Regions from separate parts of the Homo sapiens genome. Here region 1 is linked to region 2. The links come from fine-mapping of genetic effects on gene expression. A gene starts in region 2. The other region holds a variant in brackets. All regions are shown on one strand. Distances are between the middles of the regions. Region 1 has its middle 20 kb from the start of NHIP. Region 2 holds the start of NHIP (neuronal hypoxia inducible, placenta associated).

Region 1 (4,388 bases), 20 kb before region 2:
ATTATAATTAGGCATGAGGAAGAAACATTTTTTTAATTCCAAGTGGTCAGTTAGGTTAATACCAATAAAATAAATTATCCTTTCTCCATAAGATTAAGAAACCACAATTAGCTGAGTTTCCATAACAAAATGGACCTAGATTTTCTCTTAGACGGGGTCTTGCTTTGTCTCTCAGGCTGGAGCAGTGTGGTGCAGTGATGGCTCACTGTAGCCTCAACCTCCCAGGCTCAAGAGATCCTCTCACCTCAGCCTCCTGAGTAGCTGGGACTACAGGTACACACCACCACACCCGGATAATTTAACTTTTTGTGGAGACAGGGTTTCTCCATGTTGCCCAGGCTGGTCTGAAACTCCTGGGCTCAAGTGATCCTCCTGCCTTGGCCTCCCAAAGTGCTAGAGGTGTGAGCCACCACACCCAGCTAGATATTTCTATGACTTGTTCTAGGCATCTAGTCATTGATCCCTGGGCCAAAGCTGCTCTGTATTGAGCTTTTTATCTAATAAGGTGAGTGCCCCCTCACTGTTAGCTCTTTAAAAAAATATTTTCAGATAAAGAGCTGGCTGTTCCTTTAGGTGAATTTTAACATTATCTGTACCATATCAAAGAAAACTCCGCTCCGATTCTATTTGGGATTGCTTTCTTTTCATAGTTAGATTAAGTAATAAAATACTGAAGAGAAATCATATTTTTATAGTGTCAAGTTTTCCTAGTAATCCCAAATTTCTTTCTATTCATTCAGGTCTTTCTCTTAGGCTATCAGCACCATTTCATATTTTTCTTCTTATGAGATCTGTGCCTTTTTCATTTAGTTCCCTGCAGTGTGTATGGCTTATGCTGCCATTTTTGAATGGGAGATTATTATCCAGTTCCATGTCTAACTGTTTGCTGCTAGTGTAGAAAAAAAAATGGTTTCTTTTTGGTCGTTTTATATCCAGTCATCCTAAGAGTCACACTTTGCTAGTGTAATATGCTTACTCTGTGCCGTTACTAAAAGCATGAGAAGATGAAAATTCAGAAGCCAGCTGAGAAGAGACCTCTCAAGTGTGTTTGTAACTGTGATCTTCACAGATGCCAACCCTTCCCGGAAATGCTGGCCCAGGCTCTCTGAAATTCACATCCTAGACATCAAGGCATTCAATGCCTTTGGTGTGTGCACATACATGTATGTGTGTGCACATGGGTGTGTATGAATGTCACACACACCCCAGGGAATACAGTCATCACAGGCGGTAGACAGGCAATCAAGGTCCGAGCACCCCACAACTTCACAGGTGTTGAAAGTGAGGCTGGTCTGGCTCTTGCTGAAGGAAGGGCCCGGGAGCAAGTTCAGAAACCCCAAAGTCAAATGTCCACCATAGGCAAGGCATGCACAGAAACAAACAGGACACGTTCTAACAGCAAAATGCAAAATTAATGAGGGGTGTAAATAGGCAATTTAAAGAAGAGGAACTGTTGATAGAAGTTCAAACTCATTTTTATGAATAATTATGTGTCTGATTGACTTGCTGTCTTTCACATATTTGATTGGCAATGCTTAAAATAATTGTCAGGGGAAATACAAGGCAACAAGAGCTCCTGACATTGATGGTGACAATTAGATTTGCAGCCTTTCTTTGGAAATAAATGGAAAATGTCTATTAATATTAAACAGACACATTCCCTTGGACTCAGAAGCCCCAGAGGGGTGGCCATCTGGGGGATGAGTGGGGTCAGGGTGCCCCTCACCCAATTCTAAAGCCATGTTTCTCCTTCCCCCTCCAGCTGTCAGCATGGATGCCCAGCCCTTCCCACCGTCATGCCCTCCACTTTTCCTTCCTCCCTGTCTTCCCTCTACCTTTCTCCCCATCAACTCTTCCCCATTCACCAAGGTGTATCCAAATACCCCCTCCTCCATGAAGCCTTCCCTGCTCCAGCCCTCGAGGCCCCAGTCACCCCCTGCCCTGGTGTCCATGCAGCCATCCGAGGGGGTAGGTCTGCCTGCTGCCTTGATGCCTGATGCCTCGGGGGCCTCTTCCCTCAATGAAGGCTTAGGGCCCTGGACAGGGACTCTGCCTCTTCTCCATGGACCCCTTGGCAGTGCCCATCAGAGGGGTGGGCACATGGGCCTCCATGCCACACATAGGCAGTGGATTCAGCTTGATCCCTAGGCAGATGCTTCCCTGGGCTTGCATATGGGAGCCGGGGTGGGTGTGGAGCAGAGCAGTAGCCTCCATGGGAGAAGATGCCTGGGGCCTGCAGGCGGGTGGGAGCAGTTCTGAAGGAGGAGGGAAAGCAGGGCCACCTTGGAGACTTCACTGGGGTCTCTGCCCTGGACCTGAGCCAGGGAGGGTGCGTAGGAGCCCCCTGGAGAGCCGGGCATGGAGGGAAGTGAGTCCAGGCCGGA[G/A]GGTGCTGGGACCACCAGCAGCGTGTTAGCAGGGGCAGGGAGGCCGGGGACGCCCCGTAGCAAGTGAGCAGGCAGATGGAGCAGGCTGCCGGGCTCCTGGTACGCACAGCTGGGCCACCCCTGCCAGCAGAGCAGGAGAATCCTGCGTCCCCCCACAGCACTGCAGAGCAGGGAGTTTAGAAAATGCCCGGAATCTCAGTAAACTCTCCCTGCCTCCTCATCCCATGATCCTCAGCCAGCAGTTTGGAGCCGTGAGTTTGCATTTTTCAGAAGGCTCAATCCCTGCTGTGGGCATGAATTATACGGATGCTCCGGATGCCGAGGACAGCCTTTGTCTTCTTGGTGCACTGCAAAGGTGAGCGTCCCTGTGACCTTTTGCTAACAAAAGACTCTTCTCCCAAGTCCTCTCCCGGACATCAGACACCCCGGGCCGGCAGAGGACACAGACTTGCCATTGCCGGGCGGACCCACTGAGCGGTGTGACCTGCCCCAGGGGCCTCAGAGGAAGACGGCTGGTGTGTCCCTGAGACAGGAGAGACGCATTGCCACAGGCTCCCCAGAAACAAGGTCCCCAAATGCCACTGTCGGCTGCTGAGGTACAGGGAAGTGCTTGGTGGAGACCACGCTCGCCAGGCTGCCCTGCAGCCAAAAGGCAGAGGCTGAGCAGGAACGCAGCCTCCGCTGAGGGCCACGTGGTGAAATCAAGTATCTGGGCCTGGGAAAGACATTTCTGGGGAGTCTGTGTGCTGCGGTCTGGCAGCACCGAGTCCGCTGTGTGCGGGGGGCTGGTAGGACTGGCCTCCTGAAAGGAGGGGAGAGATCAGCGTGCTTGGAGGGAGACCAACTCCCAAAAGGAACAAGGTTGGAGGGGGCAAGGCAGCTTCAGAGCCTGGCTCCAGCCCTGGAGACAGAAAGACCAGTTTAAATTCCCACCCGGCCCGCACCCTCTGGGGGGCCGTGGGACTTTGGGGAGCCTCTTTGGTCCTTAGTTTTATCTTCTGTGGAACAGACGCAATAATCCGTATTTAGTTGGGGGTAATTAGTCGACGTATGTGGATAGGTGGACACGCAGTACACTTGGTGATGGTGGCCGTCTTCACCCCTCTCTCCCTGGTTTCCCTAAGAGAGGCATCTCTTTCCGCCCTTCTCCCCTGAAACTTGGGGTGTGAAGTGTAAGATGCTGGATCTCACAGACAGGAGCCCACCACCGACCCAGAGACATCGTGGCCAGTTTTGAAATCTTCAGTCTCAGAGGACACTCATGGGCTCTGCGATGCTGGGTGGGTCGTGTGCCCACCCTGAGCTCCTTCCTTTGCTCCTAAAGACAGGAGTGATGCTTCCTGCCTCCGCGTTACACAGGCATCGTGAGGCTGCACATGACAGCAGCTGCCCAGCTCCAGGTCAGTGGTGGCATGGAAGAGCTCCAGCTCCAAGCTGCACACACCCTACTTGAGACGCCGTTGTTCTGAGTCCACCGTGCCAGGTGGAGTCCTTCCGTCCCCAACCCTTGCCCTAGGGCCCTCAGTGCTGGTGGCTCCATGAGGTACTTCTTTCTGTAGTGGGTGTGAGATTCATGAGTGAGATGCCCCCAGCCCTGCTCCAGGGCAGCCTTGCCAGTTTCTGGAATGTTCTCCATTTCCAGTCTGCAGCTTCCTTCTGCCCAGGAGTGGCTTCCCTGTCTGGCTGTCATTCAGCTCAATTCTGTACTTAACTTCAAAATGTGCATAAAATCCTAAAATGGGACGTTTCTCAGTTGACGTCCTCCACCTCCAGCTCCTCTCACATGGAAGCAGGTGGGGGCCTCACGGTGTTCTAGAGTTTGCAGGGGGCAGAGAGCAGCATCCTCACCGCAGATATCCTGTTACAGGACTATGGGATTAAGAGCTTGAAGTTTCATTTAAATCACAATGAAAACAACTATGGCCTGGTGCGGTGGCTCATGCCTGTAATCCTAGCACTTTGGGAGGCAAAGGAAGGCAGATCGTGAGGTCAAGAGATCGAGAC
Region 2 (4,388 bases):
GGGCAGCAGCCCCCACGTCCTCAGGCGCTGCTGGGCAGTAACAGAGGCACCAGGTAAATCTTTATCTGGTGGAAAGGCAGCATCTCATTTGACCTTTGAAAAAACGAAACATTCCAAGCCCAGGGAAAAGTGAATAATCTATAAAACAGTGACTCCCTACCACTCAGATTTAGTCATTTTTGAAATATTTGCTTTAAATATTTTCCTAAGAAATAAAACCTTGCAAATGTAGTTGAAGGACTCACCTCATATCCCTGAAGGCTGCCATGGTCTCCACCTGGTGCCCCAGACCCTCTGAGATTTTCCAAAAGTTCACGTGTAGCCGGCCTCCCTCCCTTTCCTTTTCCCAAATTCTAACACATGTGTGTGTTCGTAAGCCAGGCGGAGTTAGATTTTCTGTGTTTTACTAAACAGACAAATCATGTTGCAGGTTTCATTGTACACCTTGCTTTAACAAATGTGTCTTTGATATTGATCCAAATTGTTACACAGAGATGCAGCCCATTCATTTTAACTTCTTTGTAACTTTCCATCGGAGGGATAAGCTACATCCATTCTGGGTTTCTGTTTTCTTTATGACAACCAATTCTTCTTTCGGCACTTGGCTTGATACACGTGAGTGAGATGTTGTCAACTCTTCTCCAAAATGTCCTTGCACATTTACAATCTCATCTCCTGCAGGCTCCTGCGGTTTCCCTGCTCCGTCAACAACGGGTATTGTGGAACTTTGTACTTTTAGAAATCCCATGGATACAATGCGGCATCTCATTACAGTTTTAATTTTCTTGATTAACAGTGTGGGGGAACATATTTTCTGTGCTTGTTAACTAGCTCTTCAAGCTCCCTGGTTTATAATGATCTGTCCTTGTCCTTCACTCAGGCTCCTGTAGAGGAGACGAAATCATTTTTCTTAATGATTCATAGCAATGCTGTGTATGTTTTGAATATGAGTTTTTGTTTTTCATATGTGTCACAAATATCTTCTGGATCTGTGGCTTTCATTTTCCTCAGAACATGCTCTGTGATACAGGAGATTTATTTTTCATGTGGTCGTTTTAAAATTGATTTTTGGCCCAGCACGGTGGCTCACGCCTGTAATCCCAGCACTTTGGGAGACCGAGGCAGGCGGATCACCTGAGGTCAGGGGTTCAAGACCAGCCTGGTCAACACGGTGAAACTGCGTCTCTACTAAAAATATAAAAATTAGCCAGTCGTGGTGGCGGGCGCCTATAATCCCAGCTACTCGGGAGACTGAGGCAGGAGAATCGCTTGAACCCGGGAGGCGGAGGTTGCAATGAGCCGAGATCAAGCCATTGCACTCTAACCTGGACGACAGAGTGGGATTCCATCTCAATCAATCAATCAATCAATTTTTACTTTTCGGATTGTGTATAAGAAACTCTTTCTGTTCTTAGGTCGTAAAGACCGTCTCCATCGCTTCTTCCGTTCGTGCGGTGGCCTCTCCTCTCACCATGGTGGCCTGGAGGCACCCAGATTTCTCTGGCCACGCGGCGCTCCAAGTCAGGAGTCAGCGCACAAGCCACGCGCGGACACCAGAACAGCCTGGAGGAAAAGCAGCCTCGTTCTGTTACCTTCTGCTGGTTACCCAGAGCCCGGTCCCTGCAGCCTGTGGGGAGAGACACAGACCCCCACTCTGCATCCGGGCGGAGTCACCCAGCGTTTACCCGCGTGTATTTCAAACTGCCGCAAGGACTACGTTTACTTTTCTCGCCCTGCTTCCGTGTTCTGCCATTTTTGAGGTCTCCACCACGGTCCCCTGGCCCCGGCCTAGACCCGGGCCTTTCCCCAGGGGTCCTGCTCCTCCGTGGCCCTGGACCGCTTGGCCCCTGTGCTCCTCTTTCCCTGGCTCCAGGATGCAGCCAGCTTCTCTTCAAGAAACTCAACCCCGGCTTGTGTTACCCCGAGGGTGTTTCCAGGCGTGCGAGGGGTGTGAGGGGTGGGACTGCACAGCGCGTCCCAGCCTCGGTCCCGGGCCCGGCCCCGGCAGACTCTGGAGAAGCCCAGGAGCGCGTGTCCCCGCCGGCCCCGCTCAGCCTGACCTGCTTTTCCCCACAGAGGTGCCGGGGTTCGGTGCAGTCTGGCCGTGTCCTCCTCTTCTCGCGGTTTCAGATTCTTCTTGCGTGACATTTTATCACACAAGACCGTGTTCGGGGATGGGGTGTTCTGAGCACGCCCTTACCGAGCCAGGCTCACCCAGTTCCCCATCTAGAGCTCCCTGCTGGCATCTCTCACCTGGGACCCCAGCCTGCAAGACTCCGACACCCACGCCCTTAGGGTGATGTGGCCGCGCCCAGCCTGCGCTCAGCACCACGGGAGGGAGGGCGGCAGGCGGAAGCCCCGGCCATCTTGGGAAGGGCCTTTTGGGACCGTGTGTTCCGCTGAGAACCACAGACCCATGCTTCAGACGCTACAGATTTCTCTCTCAAATGCCTGGATTCAAAATATAAAAGTGTGTTTGAGCAAACAGCAAAATATTTGGGAAATTCTCCCAGCGAGGCTTCTAATGACCCCGTAGGAAAAGCCAGGCTGCTCCCTGCTGCGCCTCCAGCGAACTTCCCACCGGGCAGGACTCTGGGAAGAAGAGCAAAGGGTTCTATTTTGCGTAGAATTTAAATAAAATTGCTTCACAGACGGGAAACGTCAAGCAAGCAGCACTCTGAGCCCATGCGTGCTTTTAATGCCTGAATGACATCGCAATTCAGTCTGAGTTCCCGCCTGGGCTCAGGGCCTTCTGAACTGCCGGGGGCTGTGAAATGGTTTATAATCAGAAGAGAAGCAGTGAGAGTTTAGATCCAAGATCCAAGGAAGTGTTTTCAGACTCAGTGTTAGCACATTTGTGTCTATACCAGTCCAGGCAGGAGGCTGAGGCAGAAGAATCGCTTGAACCCAGAAGGCAGAGGTTGCAGTGAGCCGAGATCGTGCCACTGCACTCCAGCCTGGGCAACAGAGCGAGACTCCATCTCAAAAAAAAAAAAAAAAAAAAAAAAACCACCATCAGATCTCGTGAGAAAGTACTGTCAGAATAGCCTGGGGGAAAACCACCCCCATGATTTAGTTACCTCCCACTGGCTCCCTCCCATGACACATGGGGATTATGGGAGCTACAATTCAAGATGAGATTTGGGTGAGGACACGGCCAAACCATATCAGGCTTCCACCCTCATAAACAGATTAATGTCATTATCGAGAGAGTGGGTTTGTTACCTCAAGAGTGGGGTTTCTAAAGTGAGCCTGGCCTCTCCTGCTCGGACTCAGGCCCTGGCTCCTGCCCTCCATCCTTCTCCCATGGGATGACCTTTGCCAGATGCCAGCACCATTGTCCTGGACTTTGTAGTCTCCAGAACTGCGAATGAAATAAATCTCATTTCTTTATAAATTACCCAGCCGGTGGCATTTCATTACAGCAGCAGAAAACAGAATAAGACAGTGGTCCTCTCTGTTATTTCTTGGTGTCTGTTTTTATGAATTTAAGGACATAATTATAGATTTTCTATTCATTAGCTTCTTTAGGTTTATTCTGTTATTCTCTGATGTTTTAAGTCAAGCTTTATTTTAAAGTTTTTCTTACTTCCTACATATGTTAAAGGTGACACATTTTCATGTAAATGAGGGATTTCTGCTAACCGTAGCTTACGGGAACAGAGCCACACCTCTTCATTTTCATACTGCCTGTGTTCGCTTTCTGACCAATCCAGCAGAGAAGAGGAGATGCAACAGAGACTATCCCACAAAGCCAAATATATTTTTATTTTTGTTTGTAAAAAATATTAGTAATAATATTTTTAAATGGGAAATGATCATCATCTGCACTTGTGAAATGCCATGTGGTATTTGGATGTATGTGCAAAACATGGAGTGATTAATTAAAGCCAATTAATATATCCATTGATTCTCTTAGTTATTTTGAAATATACAACACATTATTGTTAACCAGAGTCACCTGCTTTGCAGTAGGTCTCAAGCATGCTACTACCTGCCCCTCCACAAGACAGTTTTGCTAGTCACCTGCTTTGCAATAGGCCTCAAGCACACTACTACCTGCCCCTCCACAGAGACAGTTTGCTGACCCTTCCTAGGTGAAGCATTCTCTGCATTCACTCCAGAAGTCTCAATATGCAGCATTTATGTGGTCATTGTGTTTCAAATATTTTCAAATTTTGATTGTAATCTTCCTTGATTTACGATTCCTTCAGAAATAGGTTTTTATGGTTCCATATTTATGGGGCTGTTTTTCTCATTATTTCTAATTTCGATATGTGGAGTTCAGAGAATGTAGTCCATAAATACTTATTTTTTTAGTAATTGTTGGAATTTTTCTAAATGTCTCATGAATGCTTGATTCTTAGGTTCACAGATTTGAAGCAGCT

Evidence for each region. PIP is the estimated chance that this variant, and not a neighbour inherited with it, causes the effect. A credible set is the group of variants that fine-mapping cannot tell apart.
Region 1: its variant is the best candidate, but not a certain one, in a credible set for the expression of NHIP in tibial artery (GTEx, PIP 0.86).

What each region holds. Positions count from the first base shown.
Region 1 is chr22:49,030,009-49,034,396 of GRCh38, forward strand. No RefSeq gene overlaps it. Among named protein-coding and RNA genes, the nearest start is that of NHIP, 20 kb to the right of the region's middle. The variant G/A (reference allele first, on the strand shown) is at 2,385.
Region 2 is chr22:49,050,111-49,054,498 of GRCh38, forward strand. NHIP (neuronal hypoxia inducible, placenta associated) reads right to left here and starts at 2,275. Exons shown (of 4, transcript NR_183584.1): 1 at 246-2,275; 2 at 1-93. RefSeq lists an enhancer at 2,242-2,321.